2 separate regions of the Homo sapiens genome follow, and region 1 is linked to region 2. Evidence: fine-mapped expression QTL. Tissue or cell type: whole blood. Region 2 holds a variant in brackets; the other region holds the start of a gene. All regions are shown on one strand. Distances are between the middles of the regions.

Evidence for each region. PIP is the estimated chance that this variant, and not a neighbour inherited with it, causes the effect.
Region 1: HNRNPLL starts here. The variant in region 2 is fine-mapped to the expression of HNRNPLL in whole blood (INTERVAL, PIP above 0.99).

The regions. Positions count from the first base shown.
Region 1 is chr2:38,599,346-38,607,437 of GRCh38, reverse strand. HNRNPLL (heterogeneous nuclear ribonucleoprotein L like) reads left to right here and starts at 4,510. Exons shown (of 13, transcript NM_138394.4): 1 at 4,510-5,000. The coding sequence starts at 4,812. RefSeq lists silencers at 4,331-4,400, 4,621-4,670, 4,691-4,790.
Region 2 is chr2:38,694,797-38,702,902 of GRCh38, reverse strand. All of the region lies in intron 4 of GALM (galactose mutarotase), which reads right to left. It overlaps LOC124905993 (a long non-coding RNA gene), which reads left to right. Exons shown (of 3, transcript XR_007086292.1): 2 at 5,533-5,666. Among named protein-coding and RNA genes, the nearest start is that of GALM, 33 kb to the right of the region's middle. The variant G/A (reference allele first, on the strand shown) is at 3,127.

The DNA.
Region 1 (8,092 bases), 95 kb after region 2:
ACAGAAATTAAGTTGAAGGCTAGGCACAGTGGCTCATGCCTGTAATCCCAGCACTTTGGGAGGCTGAGGTGGGTGCATTGCATGAGGCCAGGAGTTCACAACCAGTCTGGCCGACATGGTGAAACCCCATCTCTACTAAAAGTACAAAAATTAACCAGACATGGTGGCACAAGCCTGTAATCCTAGCTACTTGGGAGCCTGAGGCACAAGAATCAGGAGGCGGAGGTTGCAGTGAGCCTAGATCATGCCACTGCACTCCAGCCTGGGTGACAGAGCAAGACCCTGTCTAAAAAAATAAAAATAAAAAAAGTAAAAAATTAACACTAAAACAGTGCATTATATTTGTAATTTCCTGTGGAAGTAAATTGAATTTCCTTATACAAATGCAAATGATGAAAACTATAACGTATTCAATCCTTCCCAGGATTATAGCTACATAAACCCAGGTATAAATTAGTGAATGAAGCTGAGTTCAGTGGCTCATGCCTGTGATCCCAATGCTTTGGGAAGCTAAGGCAGGAGGATCTTTTGAGCCCAGGAGTTTGAGACCAGCCTGGGCAATATGGTGAGACTCCCGTCTCTACCAACAACAACAACAAAAAATAGCTGGGTGTGGTGGTATGTGCCTGTGGTCCCAGCTACTTGGGAGGCTGGGGTTGGGAGGATTGCTTGAGCCCAGGAGGTAGATGCTACAGTGAGCTATGATTGCGCTACTGCACTCCACAGCCTGGGCAGCAGAGTGAGATCCTGTCTCAAATAAAGAAATAAATAAAAAGGAGAAATCAGTGAATGAATTAGCATCATTATATAATAAGTGACTATAAATTAGATCTGTATGTCCATGGTAATAAATAACACAATAATTAAATCATCAGTCTTCTGATGACGAGTACTGGCTCTGGAACCCGATTGCTTGGGTTCCAGTCCTGGCTTTTCAATTTATTAACTGCAGCTCTAGGGCAGGTTTCCTTTTTTTTCTTTTCTTTTTTTTGAAACAGGGTTTCACTCCAACACCCAGGCTAGAGTGTAGTGGTGCAGTCACGGCTCACTGTAGCCTGGACCTCCCTGGGCTCAGGCAATCCTCCCACCTCATCCTCCTGAGTGGCTGGGATTACAGGCACGCACCACCATTCCAGGCTAATTTTTACAATTTTTGTGGAAACAGGGTCTTGCCACGTTGCCTAGGCTGGTCTCAAACTCCTGGGCTCAAGTGATCTGTGTGCCTCTGCCTCCCTCTGTGCCCAGCCTAAGGCAGGTTTCTTAATCTCCCCTAGACTGTTTCTTTAATTGTATACTGGGAAGAGTAATAATAATGCCTCTGGTAGAAGGCTTCTGTCAGAATTTATTGACAAAACCCTTTCAGTGGTTAGCACAGTGACTGGCACATTAAATGTGGCTATTAATTATTGTATATGTATTATTACATATGGATGCTTGTAGCCTATCTCTTGGGTATGAGCCTTGTTTCCACAACTTGATTGCAAGCTTTGAGAGGGCAGGGACCAGCTCACGTAGTCCTCTCATCACCTAGCACAATGTCTTATAAATTTTATAGATCAGTAACGAGATTTAAAACTAAAGGGCAATTTGAGGCTGGATTGATTATAAAGGCCCTTGACTCTCAATTTCCCTAGGCCTGCCCTAAGCCTGTCTCCTACTCCAGTATAGCTGGAGTCCCCTTTGAGCTGTGGCAATGGGAGCTCTTGGCTGCTGCCTACTTGACAGCAGCGAATTCAATCAAATGTTCAGAAAATAGTCAAAGGTCTGAGGCCGTAATGCATGAGAGGTTCCAGACAGTCATGGCATTTAGGAGCTGTTTCTGCTTTTCTTAGGTATTTCTGGCTACTGGGCAGTGTGTAATTTCTTTGTCTCACCTAAGTGAAATAATGTAGAGTATAATTTATGTCCTCTCTCTTTAGCTCCTCATGCCCTGGTGATGAGCTAGCTAGTATTTTCCTTATCAAAGGACCTACTGTCACTGTCTGAACAACTCATCTGCAACAAGCTCGCATTTCACCCATGGTTAACGAACTGATTGGTGTCCTTTAAAAATGCTTTCTAAGTTTTACTCCCTCAATATTTTTTTTTTTACTCAACTGGGCTACTTACAAAAAGAACAAAGTTTAATACTGGTACATATTGAATTCCACCTGCTGTTTGTGAACGCTGAGCACAGCAGCCCTAGGTTTGGCAAGGCTGGATTTCCTTACCCATTGGTGTGACAGTTGCATTGTAATGTGGTATAATCCATAGGTTGAATGCAGGGCTTTGAGAATTTAAAATATTTGCATCTTCACAAGAAATATTTGGAAAGTTTGTATAAGGCCTAGTAAATCCAGTTGTGAGTGAATAGAATTTACCAAACTAAATTCACCTAGCATATGAAAATGTACATAAAACAAAATTAACAGGTAGTTGCTCATACTTAACAAAAAGATATTTAGTGCTTCTCATCACACTCAATTATTTCACATAATATTCTATTGTTTTCTTTCTCCTAAAAAATAATTGTTTTAAGCTCTCAGCTCTTCTCTTTTAATTTGAGCAAACTAAAAATATCTTGAGAATGGCCCATCTCACCTCATCAAAGAAGTTTCCTTTGTATCAAGTTTATTAATTCACTCATCCTTTCCTGATCTTTGATACTGAGACTGCTATAAAAAGGACAATGGATGCTAAAGATAACACGTGAAGTAGGTTTGTTAGACCTTTTTTTTGACCCTTGGTATCTTCAGCTTTCTGAAGGCCAGGTAATGTCTGCATTCTGAATATGTTAGGGGACATATGAATCCATAGGACATATTTTAAGCAGAATTGTATCATTGTTTCCCTTGTTGCTATTTTACTTTCCCAAACCATTGCAGAGCTTTTTGCCAATGACATTTTCTCATCCGCAGCCAGCTCTGCCACTCTTTTGCTATTTCTTCTGTCGACTTCCATTTTAATTTAAAAAATAAATTTATAATTTTTTTAGTTCTGTTTTGTCAATGTATACCTGCAGCCGCACACACATTTGATTATAGCTGCATAGTGTGGAAAATCTTGCAATTAGATTCCAAAATGACAGCCGGTGTAATTTACAAAGTACAAAAGTGTTATGTTAAAGCACTCTCAGCAATAAATAAAAATAGCTTTTTTGGAGGAGGAAATAACTTTGGAGAGAACTAGGCTGGAGGAGGAAGCAATCTACACTCTTAGGAAAGGAAGAGCCACATCTAGGAAAGCATCCGAGGGACAAGGACAACAGAAACACAAGAGGCTCTTGATCTCAGGCAGTCCTCCAAGAGGCACCTGACAGAGGGCAGTTAGGTTGCCTTGATTTGCCAGTTTCTGTCCTGAAAGATACACTGGACCTTTATTTCCCAAGGACTACTCATTCAGCATTGTTGAGCACCTAAATTGTGCTGGAGATCGCACAGGAACTGGGCTTGCGAAAATGAAAATTGCACACAGTTCCTGTCTTCAGGCGCTCACAGAGTTTTTAAAACAGAACATCTTAAGAGGGAGTTATAAGGGGCCCTGTTGCAAAAAGAGAGCAGCAACTAAAATCTTGGAAAAGCCCTCAGGACACCACAGAGGAAGCAAGCTGTGATCACAGAACTTTGAAAGGCTTTTGTATCTTTCGACAATAAATGATCAAGTGAAGTAAATACATTGTCCAGAAGAGAAAGAATTGGGATGGAGGATGAGATTTTATATGGAAGGATTAAAACATATTTAACTGGAGCAGGGACTTACAGGGACAGGCAAGTCAGTAAAGGGCCCAGGTTACAAACGAGTTATAACCGATCAGACCGACGAGCGCCCGCGTGCAGCGCCTCCTGCCGACGCGCGCCTCGCAGCCTTCAGTCAATGCTGACAGCTGTTCTCCAACACCCAGCTAGGGGCGGGAGGGTCCGCCCACTTCTACCAGATTTTGCACACAAAACAGTGGAAAGACCATTCTCATGGCTCCAAGCCGTTTTCTCCCTTCATCGCCTGCAATTTTAGGGCTTTTCGGGGGGTATGACTGCAGGGATTTTAGAGGTTTTTTTCCTCATTCTCTTTTTAAGAGGTGATAAAAAGCATTTAAATTAGCGGCAGGGCGGTTAACACCCGCAGCCCTAGCCTCTCCGCACTTCTCGTCGCTCGTCCGTGTTCACTCCACGCCTGGCCTCGGGTAGGAGCCGCATAGCGCCAACGGTTGCGGGTCGCAACTACTCCCAGGCGGCGCGCCTTGCGCGCCGGGCCTCCCAGGACCGCGGCGAGTTCAGAAGGCGCGGGGAGAGAAGTGAGGTCGAGCAGCGGGCGGCTTTTGACGAACGGCCCTCACAGCCAATGGGAAGCCCGGTCGACTTTCCCGCCCCTGCCAATAGGGAGCAGAACCCGGGCCGGGGGGGGCGCTTCCCGCAGGCTGCGGCTGGATTCGATCCTGCGCGACGGCCGCGAAGGCGGGGGCGGAGGCTCGGCCTGCGCGGCTGGGAGCGGCTTAGGGGAGGAGGGAAGACCGGAAGCCACGGTTGCGTCCCCATCCTTAGATTCGCTCCTCCGGGCAGGGAGCGGAGACGGAGGAGGAGGAGGGAGAGGCTGAATGTTGGCTCGGTAATTGAGAGGAGCGGCCGCTCCAGAGCTTCCTCCCGGGGCGCCCCCCTCAGTCCGTCCGCGCTTCTCAGCCGCCAGTCTCCTGGCCGCGCAGTCCCCGCGGACGGCCGGGCCGCGGAGACCCTCGCAGAAGAGGCGCTGCCGGCGGCGAGGACTGGCCGGCGGCATCCGAGGCGCGCGCCCCACCGCCACCCCCACCCGCCTGCCAGCCGGTCCCTCCGGCCGCCGCCATGTCCTCCTCCTCTTCCTCCCCCAGGGAGACGTACGAGGAGGACCGGGAGTACGAGAGCCAGGCCAAGCGTCTCAAGACCGAGGAGGGGGAGATCGACTACTCGGCCGAGGAAGGCGAGAACCGCCGGGAAGCGACGCCCCGGGGCGGGGGCGATGGCGGCGGCGGCGGCCGGAGCTTCTCTCAGCCGGTAACAAAGCGCGGCCCCCCTGTCCGCTGTGCCTGGCTGCTCCCCGGGAAGCAGGGCCTCGGTGCGGGGCCTCCCGCTTGCTTCAGTTAGCCTTTTCCGCTGCGCCGACCCGTTTGGGGAAGCGCCCACTCTTCTCTTTGGGGCTCGTATTCTGGCCTCTACCTGTTTCCCGCATCCCGACTGCGAACCCGGCGCCGTCCTGGCCGCAGGCCCCGCAGCGAGTCCACTGCCGGGCCCTGAACTTGGGGAGGGTCGCGGCGCGGCGGCGGCGGCGGGGAGGCGTCGCTTCCGCTCTGGGGGGTTTCGCGGCTCGGGGAGCTCTTTGTTAGTTTAACTCCTCGGGCTCGGGGCCAGCGTCGGGACCACCGGTTCTCTTCAGTCCCTCTGCCCGCAGCAGCCGCGCGTTGGTCACCATCCCGGGATGGTTGCGTCGGTTCTACCGGGAGCTCTCTCCGCCTCGGTCCTATGGAGACCCGTAATTAAATAACAGATTATGCCTTGGCGTTCACATGCTAGTTCCCTTGAAGGTTTAATTTAAAAAATTTTAAAATTAAACTCTTTATAAGCATGGCGTGCATCCTTTGCTCTACCCAATTTTGTGGATTACTCAGTACACTTTTTACCTCTTCGGTTACAACACTTCAACAGAAGTGTTGGCAGCTGTTGGTACACCCCTACCTTCAAGTAAAACAAATCTTAAAATTACTAAAGTTTTTCATTGGTAATTTATTCCACATTTGCCCCATGAAAGGATGAAGTGAGCTCAGGGTTGCATTAAACACACATTCCTAGAGCCAGGTCTTTCTCTTACCAGAAATGTTAGGGGGAGGCAGAAGGAATGTGATCATTTTGTCCACAGCAAGTAGTTAGCTTCAGTTGGATGGAGACTTTAAGGAAACAAAGCGGAGCAAACGTTATTGCCCTTTTTTGGTGCACTTAAGCGGTTTTAATGACTTAGATGTTATTTAAACATTTAACACATGAATTGTGATTAATTCTGCAAACTTTAACAGAATTACGAAACTGTACACATATATCCTACTATTAGGTTAAAAGGGTTTTTACCTTACCTTTTAAAAATAAGACGCACATTAGAAGCCCTTTATAGCCGTTTGAATTTTTAAATAATAAAAAAAAAGGCTGGTCAGTCACCCAGCGTTGCAGTTTCCAGTTACCAGGATGTGAGAGCAAACTTTGCAACACATTTAAAAAAGGAACTTTTTCTCTCAGTCTTGTTACGGTGTTAGCTATTACTTTAGATTTTTGTGCCGAGCTATTTGAAATATTCAAAATGTAACTTGGAAGTGTGAATAAAGGAAATGGTTTTTTCTTAGGAAGTTTCAGTTCAAAGCCAACTCTGTTGTGGAAATTGGAAACAGGAATATTATAACTGATATTTCGATGTATTCGATCAGTGTACCTCGTTGCTAGAAATCTTGCTTGGGTTTTTGTGCAGCATCATGAAATGTCTTCAGGCATTTTGGAAAGATACTTAAATCAGATTATAAAAATTTGTTTTTGAAAACAGATAAAGCATTAAATCAATAGTATTATTTTGGATGTTGGGAAGAAAATAACATATAATTAATGTATCCAAAGCGAAATGTGTGGAGCGGTGGAAATGGCACTGAGTAGGGCTTGGGGGTGGTCAAGAGTCTAGGCTTAGCATACAATTTTTTTTTTTTTTTGAGAGGATCTCACTCTATGGCCCGGGGCTGGAGTGCAGCAGCTCTGGAGTGCAGCAGCTCGTGATCACGGCTCACTGCAGCCTTGATCTCCCTGTCTCAAGCGATCCTCCTACCTCAGCCTCCCGGGTTGCTGGGACTGGAAGCCTGCATCACCACGCCGGGCCAATTTTTTTTTTCTGTGTTTTGTAGAGAAGGGGTTTCACCATATTGCCAAAGCTAGTCTCTTAACTCCTGGGCTCAAGAGATCCACCTGAGTTGGCCTCCCAAAGTGCTGGGATTACAGCCGTGAGCCACCGCACCTGGTCTTAGCATACAATTTGTGTGAGTCTGAGAAAGTCAGTTTACTACTCTGAGTTCTCTTAGTCTGTAAAATATGAAGGTTGAAACACATGCCTTTTTTAACCGAAGCTATAGTTAAGTGATTAACGTAATGCTAATGCTGCTTTTAAGTTACCCCGGCGGGAACTGATATAAGCAGATTGAGGTATAAATTTTAATTTTTTTGTTTATCTTACTGCTGATATGTTTCCTAGGAAAGGGTGAATTGTTTTCATTTAACAGTAAAACCATCATTGTACTATGAAATCTAATGAAGCCTTGTTTATCTTGTTTTTAAATATTTTTCATGTAATTTTTGGTACTATTTTGAAATCATGGCAACTATGGAAACCTGTACATAATAAAATTCTATTATTAGGATAGACGTTCCCCGGATAGAAGTTTACTGTCTTGTGCTTCTTCGTTCACATGTTTGGTAATTCATTGTAACCGAAAAGGGTTTTGCACAACTTCAGTGGTCCTTCAGCCCAGAGAAGAAATACCTTTGTGGTCAGACTGTTAAAGTAAATGCAGGTTAGGTACAATGATGGCATTCTTTTCAACTCTAGTTGGAAGTTTGTAAAGTGCAAAGTAAGCCTTTGAAGATTTACATTGCTTGGTTTTTTATGATTAACCTTGAGTGCTTTGATAATATATTGACTACATTTAAAGAGGAAAGTGAGTATTTAAGAAAAACATAGTGGTTCTACAAAGGCTCTTAACTTAGAAATGAATGGATAATTGTGAGTGATCATTATGTTGAAGGTACAAAGAGAAATGAGAGAAGAGTTAATACTTTGGATATGAGAAATAAAACACCCTTCAAATTTGTGTCTTCTGGTACCTTTTTTTAATAGAGCAAAAAACTCCTAGGGTTTTTCACATTCACTGAGCTGCATTGTTGAATAAGGCTTGATTATAGAGGTTCCTGCCACATATTATACAGTTACTTTTTTCTTGTGGAGTAGTGTTCTTAAATTTAATAGGCATGACCTTCAAGATCATATTAAGTTTCTGTATCTTCTTTTAAGAAGGCAGCTTGACTTGGAAATATTAAGGCTTCACTTGGGAAAACCACTTGAGGAA
Region 2 (8,106 bases):
TATATATATAGTGTTTAAAACAAATGTAAAGGAGAGAGGAGTGTGGAGAGACTGGCTGGGGGCAAAATAAGCAATAGTTAATTCCTAGGATGTATAGGTTGGCTATTACTCAGCTTCATTTTTGTGTTCAGTATAGATTAGTTTTCTAGCTTCAACCCGAAGAGACCAAGCCTGAAGCTCCCTTCTAGCTCCCTACTTTGGATCTGTGACTAAATCCTGATGGATTATCTGAGCAAGCTCTGTGGAGAGGCAGATAGCAGAGACTGGCCACATCATGAATTCTAAATGGCTGATGTCATTACAAAAACCATAAGCAAGAAAGAATCTACAGTTTCCAGAAAGTGGGGGGAAAAGTTTCTAAGGAGAAAGTATGACTCTTGAAGAAGGAGGGTAAGGGTCATGTAGCAAAGAAGAGGTTATTGGGTGGTCTCTGTAGGCTGGGGGTGGGAAAGGGATGCACAGCAGGGTGGGGTGTGAGGGAGGCATGCTCGGAGATCATTTTTGTTTTTGTTTTTTGACCAGTGAAATGTTCAATTTTTTTTTTAAGTTTTAAAATTTTTAAATTTTTATTTTTTTGATCAGTGAAATGAGAGATGGTTTTGGGGAGGCCTGAGAGCCGTCTAAGAGGTTTATTAACCTGGAGATTATCAAAGTAAGATTTGCATTTTAGATAGATGCTTTTACATGGAAGATAGATCTTAAGATTTTTTTTTTTCCAGTTAGGTGTTAGAGTGCAGTTGTCCAGATTATGAATCATTCATTCATTGATCCCACTTTATGAAGCCCATAATATAAGCCAGGCACTAATCTAGACAAGAAAAGATAGTCTAAAGCAGCACAGTGAAAATGGAGATGGAGTTATATAACCAACAATACATACTGAGGAGACAGATTTGAGAAATGCTTAGGAGTTAAAAATCAGTAGGACCTGATGACTAATTAAGGCAGTGGGGAGTGAAATGGAAAGAGTAAGGATACTGACAGATGCTTGAAACAAATATGTCCAATATTTTAGAATTATATAATAAATTTAAAGGAATTTTCTGTCAGGAGCTCCAGAAAGATTAACACCCAAATGCTAATACATAAAGATCAAAACAGCCTTCGTTTGCAACATCTTTGAATGAGGAGACTACTTTGGACTTTGCTATTTCTCCAAGGCAGAGATAGAGACCTGCCCCAGGGAGGTAATTATATCATCTGCCGAATTGTAGGTTTAACCGACAGAGGTTGAAATAAAATACAAAAGTCTTGCTGGGCCTCTCTCCACAGCCTCATGGCAAGCGTTTCCTACCAGAATTCTAATTTTGTCAAAATGGGGTTGCTTTGATGTAATTTTAGAATAAGCTTTTAAAAACTGAGAGCAGCAAGAACAGCAAGTGAACACAGATGGGCTGGGGGACAGAGTGAATTGGGTAAATTTTATAAGAATAAAAAAGAAGAGGGGATTTTACTAATGCTACTTTCAAAGGCAAAAGACCTAGTCAAAGCACTCATTTTTGCTTTCTTAATTCCTTATCTACTACTACAAATAAAGAGCAGCAAAATTATAAGGAAAAAAAAAACTGTGTGCTGTAAATGCCTTTAAAGACACATCCTTAGTAGTGCACTGTATTGTATACATCATAATGTCTTGCTGGGCAGGCTGCCCAGCTCACCTCCTAATTCTACAGTTCTGTGAGGTGAAAGGTGAAATGTAATATTTACAATCCTGAGAATGAATTAATCCCTGGCAAAATAGAAGGATTTGATTTTCTCATCTGCTCACATCTAGCTGGTGTAATACTTAAGCAGGGTACCAGGGATCTGTTTCTACTTGTTGCCACAGGGCAGGGAACTAGAATCAGGTCCTGAAGCTAAATGCCTGACATGTCTCAGACAAATAAAAACTGACAGAATTCATCACCACTAGACCAGCCTTATAAGAAATGCTCAAGGGAGTCCCACATCTGGAAGTGAAATGATAATTACTATCAAGAAAACACAAAAAAGTAGAAAACTCACTGGTAGAGCACATACACAAAGGAGAAAGAGAAAAGAATCAAATTTTACCACTACAGAAAACCACCAATCACAAGGATGAACAATAAGAGGGGAAGAAAGGAACAAAGGATATATTTAAAAAAACAGAAAATAATTAACAAAATGACAGAAGTCCTCACCTATCAATAATAATCTTGAATGTAAACTTATTAAACTTCCCCCCTTAAAATATATAGACTGGCTGAATGGATTAAAAAACATGGCCCAACTACGGTTGCCTACAAGAAACTCACTTCATCTGTAACGACACACATAGACTGAAAGGGTGGAAAAAGATATTCCATGCAAACAGAAACCAAAAGCAAGCAGGGTAGCTGTACTTGTATCAGATGAAACAGACGTCAAGTAAAAAACGATTAAAAAAAAGAAAAAGGTTATTATATAATGATAAAGGGATCAATTCAGTAAGAGGAGGTAACAATTCTAAATATATATGCACCCAACACTGGAGCGCCCAGATACATAATATAAAGCAAATATTATTAGATCTAAAGGGAGACATAGACACCAATACAATAGCTGGGGAATTCAACACCCCATTCTCTGCACTGAACAGATCATCTAGACAGAAAATCAACAACAAAACACTAGATTTAAACTGCACTTTAGGCTGAGCGCGGTGGTTCACATCTGTTATCCTAGTACGTTGGGAGGCTGAGGTGGGCGGATCACTTGAGGCCAGGAGTTTAAAACCAGCCTGGTCAACATGGTAAAACCCTGTCTCTACTAAAAATACAAAAATTAGCTGGGTGTGGTGGCGGGCACCTGTAATCCCAGCTACTTGGCAGGCTGAGGCACGAGAATTGCTTGAACCTGGGAAGTGGAGGTTGCAGTGAGTCAAGATCATGCTACTGCACTCCCAGCCTGGGCAACAGAGTGAGACTCTCTCAAAAAAACAAAAAACCCTGCATTTTAGACTAACAAAGAGACATTTACAGAACATTTCATCCAACAGATTCAGAAAACACATTATTTCATCAGCACAAGAAACATTTTCCAGAATAGACCATATGTTAGCCCACAAAACAAGTCTCAACAAATTTAAAATAATTGAAATTATATCGAGTATCTTTCCTGACCACA[G/A]TGGAATAAAACTAGAACTCAACAGCGAGGTGAACTTTTGAAATTGTACAAATACACAGAAATTAAACAATATGCTCCTGAATGATCAGTGAAGAAAATTTTAAATATTCTTCTCTTTTCTTTTTTAAGATGGTTCTTGCTATGTTGTCCAGGCTGGTCTTGAACTCCTGACCTCAGGTGATCAGTCCACCTCGGCCTCCCAAAGTGCTGGGTTTACAGGCATGAGCCACCGCACACAGCCTAAAGGTTGTTTAATGTTAATAAAAGTACAGCTAGATAGGGGGAATAAGTGCTAGTGCTCTAAAGCACTATAGGGTGACTATAATTAACAACAACTTATTGTATATTTTCAAATAGCTAGAACAGCAGATTTTGAATGTCCCAACACAAAAAAATGATAAATGTTTGAGGTGATGGATATGCTAATTACCCTGATTTGATCCTTATACATTGTAAACATGTATCAAAATATCCCAGTGTACCCTGTAAATATGTATTAGGTATCAATAAAATATGTATTAGATATCAAGTATTAGGTATCAATTAAAAATAATAACAGCTGGGGCCAGGTACGGTGGCTCATGCCTGTAACCCCAGCACTTTGAGAGGCCGAGGTGGGCAGATCACCTAAAGTTAGGAGTTCGAAACCAGCCTGGCCAACATGGTGAAACCCCGTCTCTACTAAAAATACAAAAATTAGCTGGGCATGGTGGTGGGCGTTTGTAATCCCAGCTACTCGGGAGGCTGAGGCAGGAGAATTGCTTGAACCCAGGAGGCGGAGGTTGCAGTGAGCCGAGGATGTGCCATTGCACGCCAGCCTAGGCAACAAGAGCAAAACTCTGTCTCAAAATAATAATAATAATAACAGCTGGACACAGTGGCTCATGCCTGTAATCCCAGCACTTTAGGAGGCCGAGGTGGGAGGATCACTTGAGAGCTCAGGAGTTCAAGATCAGCCTGGGCAACATAGTGAGACCCCATCTCAAAAACAAACAATATATAAACAAATGTCTGACAAAGCAGCACAGGGATCTGGCACTGCAGTGTTCTCTGTCTCTGGACATCCATTATCTACACCCCTGTCCTTTCTGGGAAACAGCTTCAGGGAGTTCTACTTCTGGGAAATTACAGGGACAGCCCTGACAACAATAAACATAGAAAACACATGCCAGAGGGACTCATATGCCCAACAACAGAGTGTGCTCCCATCCTATGGAGCAGCAAATGCTTTATGGGTGTCATTTTTTTCCTTTTTTTTTTTTTAAGTAGCTAAGAATAATTGCTCTGAAGACGCAGAGCTAAATTAACTGCTAACATCCAAACACAGCCTGACAGTGTACCTGCAAACTTTGCTCCTGGTCCATGGGTAAAAGGAGCTCTCAGCCTTGCAGAAACCTTCTGTTGGTGCCACCTGCCATGGGACAGGAAAGAAGCACCTGTGAGCAAGGGCTATGCACTCAATACACCACTGCTGACTCCTAAGTGCCGGAATTTCATCTACAGAGGTAGCTTTAGAAGTTAGGTGATGAATTCTATTCATTTATTTAAAATATATATATAATCCCAGCACTTTGAAAGGCTGAGGTGAGCAGATCACTTGAGGTCAGGAGTTTGAGACCAGCCTGGGCAATATGGTGAAACCCCATCTCTACTAAAAATACAAAAATTAGCTGGCCGTGGTGGTGCGCACCTGTAGTCCCAGCTAATTGGGAGGCTGAAGCAAGAGGATCATTTGAACCCGGAAGGCGGAGGCTGCAGTGGGCCGAGACTGCACCACTGTACTTCCAGCCTGGTGATGGAGTGAGACTCTGTCTAAAAAAAAAAAACCCCAAAACCCAAAATTGCCAACAGGAAGAAGGCAGGAGCAAAACAGGTGCTCATGGCTGCCAAAGATTTGTGGGTCCTGCCTGGGGTAGAGGTCTAAATGCCGGCTCTGCATTGAAGACGTAAGGGAATTTCTTTGTCTTGCTCTTGCTCTGGCTCCCTGTAACTGCATACCATGGTATCTCTTTTCTTTCTAGGTGATAATGCCCCATCCATAAGTGGGTTACTAACAAAATGGAGGACAGGACGTCACTCCTCCCCAAACACCTACAGGGGGAAGGTCCCCTTTTACTGAGCACTGTGGCCACAATTTTAACAGTTACTGCAAAATAAAAGTTGCTACATTCTCATGATGATGTGTTTTCCCATCACCTGAAAAATTATTTACCGAGTGTCTGTAGCCAGGGTGAAAAACACCCCTAAAGTTTAGATATGCATCAGTATTTCCCTCAAGAATAGCACACGTTAAAACTTTTATAAAGAGAAAACAAAAATAAGGAGTTGAAAAACATATAAGTATAAATTAATAGCCACAAAAGGGAGAAGTTAAAGAGAGACTATGAAAACATCTTTGTCTTGCAGAAAGATACAATCTGAGAAGCAACCCTGCAGGACTTGGCTGAAAGTCAACAGGCGGCTGATCAAATGAAGCAATAGAAGCTGTGTAATTTGTCACATCAAGCACCTGCGACAAACCCACGCACAATCCGAGGAATGTAGGTGATCTGACAAAAGGCCTTATGTTTAAAATTTACCCTAAGTTTCCCTAAATCCATCACAAATTTCCCCACATAAGCCACTTTTTCAGACACAGTTTAACTATCTTTTCTTGTGACACTAGGTGCATTTGAAGAGTTCTTGGGGGCCGGGTGCAGTGGCTCATGCCCATAATCCCAGCACTTTGGGAGGCCACAGCAGGTGGATCACTTGAGGTCAGGAGTTCGAGACCATCCTGGCCAACATGGTGAAACCCCCTCTCTACTAAAAATACAAAAATTAGCCGGGCGTGGTGGCATGTGCCTGTAATTCTAGTTACTCGGGAGGCTGAGGCGGGAGGATTGCTTGAACATGGGAGGCAGAGGTTACAGTGAGCTGAGATCGCGCCACTGCACTCCAGCCTGGTTGACAGAGCAAGACTCTGTCTCAAAAAAAAAAAAAAAAAAAAAAAAAAGCTTTCTTGGGGGTAGGTGCGGTGGCTCACGCCTGTAATCCTAGCACTTTGGGATGCTAAAGTGGAAGGATGGCTTGAGGCAGGGAGTTTGAGACCAGCCTGGGCAACATAGTGAGACATCATCTCTGCCAAAAAAGAAAAAAAAATCCATGTTGAGACATTTTCGTGTAAAAAAAGAAAAAATTACCTGGGTATGGTGATGTGCACCTGTAATCCTAGCTATTTGGAAGGCGGAGCCAGGAGGATTGCTTGAGCCCCAGAAGTTTGATGTTACAGTGAGCTATGATTGTGTCACTGTTTCAGCTTGGGCAACAGAAAGAGACCCTGTCTCAAAAAAAAAAAAAAAAAGAAAAGAAAAAGAAAAGCTGGACACAGTGGCTCATGCCTGTGATCCCAGCACTTTGGGAGGCTAAGGCAGGTGGATCACCTGAGGTCAGGAGTTCAAGACCAGCCTGACCAACATGGTGAAACCCCATCTCTACTAAAAATACAAAATTAGCCAGGTGTGGTGGCACATGCCTGTAATCCCAGCTACTTGGGAGGCCAAGGCAGGAGAATCGCTTGAACCCGGGAGGTGGAGGTTGCAGTGAGCTGAGATCACGCCATTGCACTCCAGCCTGGGCAACAAGAGCGAAACTCTGTCTCAAAAGAAAAAAAAAAATCTCTACACTTTTTTTACTGTTATAGTGACAATAATAGAGGCTTTTCTCTCCAGGAGCTCTAAGTGAAATTAATGAGAAATCTCATGACCCTAAGAAGAGAGATTTAAAAAACAAACACGCAGGCGGGGTGTGGTGGCTCACACCTGTAATCCCAGCACTTCGGGAGGCTAAGGCGGGTGGATCACTTGAGGTCAGGAGTTCAAGATCAGCCTGGTCAACATGGTGAAACCCCATTTCTACTAAAAATACAAAAATTATCCGGGTATGGTGGCATGCGCGCCTGTAGTCCCAGCTACTCAGGAGGCAGAGGCAGGAGAAGCACTTGAACCCGGGAGGTGGAGGTTGCTGCAGAGAGCTGAGATCGAGCCACTGCACTCCAGCCTGGGCAACAGAGTGAGACTCCGTCTCAAAAAACAAACAAGCAAACAAACAAGCAAACAAACAAAACCACACACACATAAACAAGGATTTGGGGTGGAAAGCAGAGGACTAGGATGGTAAGCAAAATAACTGATTTACGCAGTAAAAGTCATTCATATGCAAAAAGGCCAAAGCTGTTTTAGAGAAGTTTTCTACTGTTGATTTCTGAGGGTTTCAGCACAACCAAGCAGCCACCCCAGGAAAAGCCAGGTAGAGCAAAGGGTCTAAAACGAACTCATTATCCAGCATCTCCCCAGGATAAATGAAGTACCCACCATAAGGGACTGCTCCAGATAGCTGAACGCCACCCTGTAAATGGTACAGCTTTTCTTTAACTGTGTCTGTAAGTTTGCTTTCTTTTTTTGAAACTTTATTTATTTATTTATTTAATTTATTTATTTTGAGACTGGGCTGTGAGATTGGCTAATTTTTGTATTTTTGGTAGAGATGGGGTTTCACTGTGTTGCCAAGGCTGGTCTCAAAGTCTTGGGCTCAAAAATCCAACCGCCTCCACCTCCTGAAGTGCTGGGATTACAAGCATGAGACACTGCACCCGGCCTGTTTGTAAATTTTCTACCGAAGGTGATTTTTCTATCATTTTCAACAGAGATGACCAACATACATACTTAAAGAATGTGAACTTTCAACACAACTTGTTCATAACAAGATTCTGCATATGAGAAAACCAAGAACCAGAAAGACAAGGGATCTGTCAGGAACACCATATGCTGCAACAGAACAATGACACCTGAGGTGACTTTCCCTTGACTTTCCCTTTCTTTTTTTGTTTTTTTTTTTTTTTTGAGACGGAGTCTTGCTCTGTTGCCCAGGCTGGAGTGTAGTGGCCCGATCTTGGCTCACTGCAACCTCCACCTCCCGGGTTCACGCCATTCTCCTGCCTCA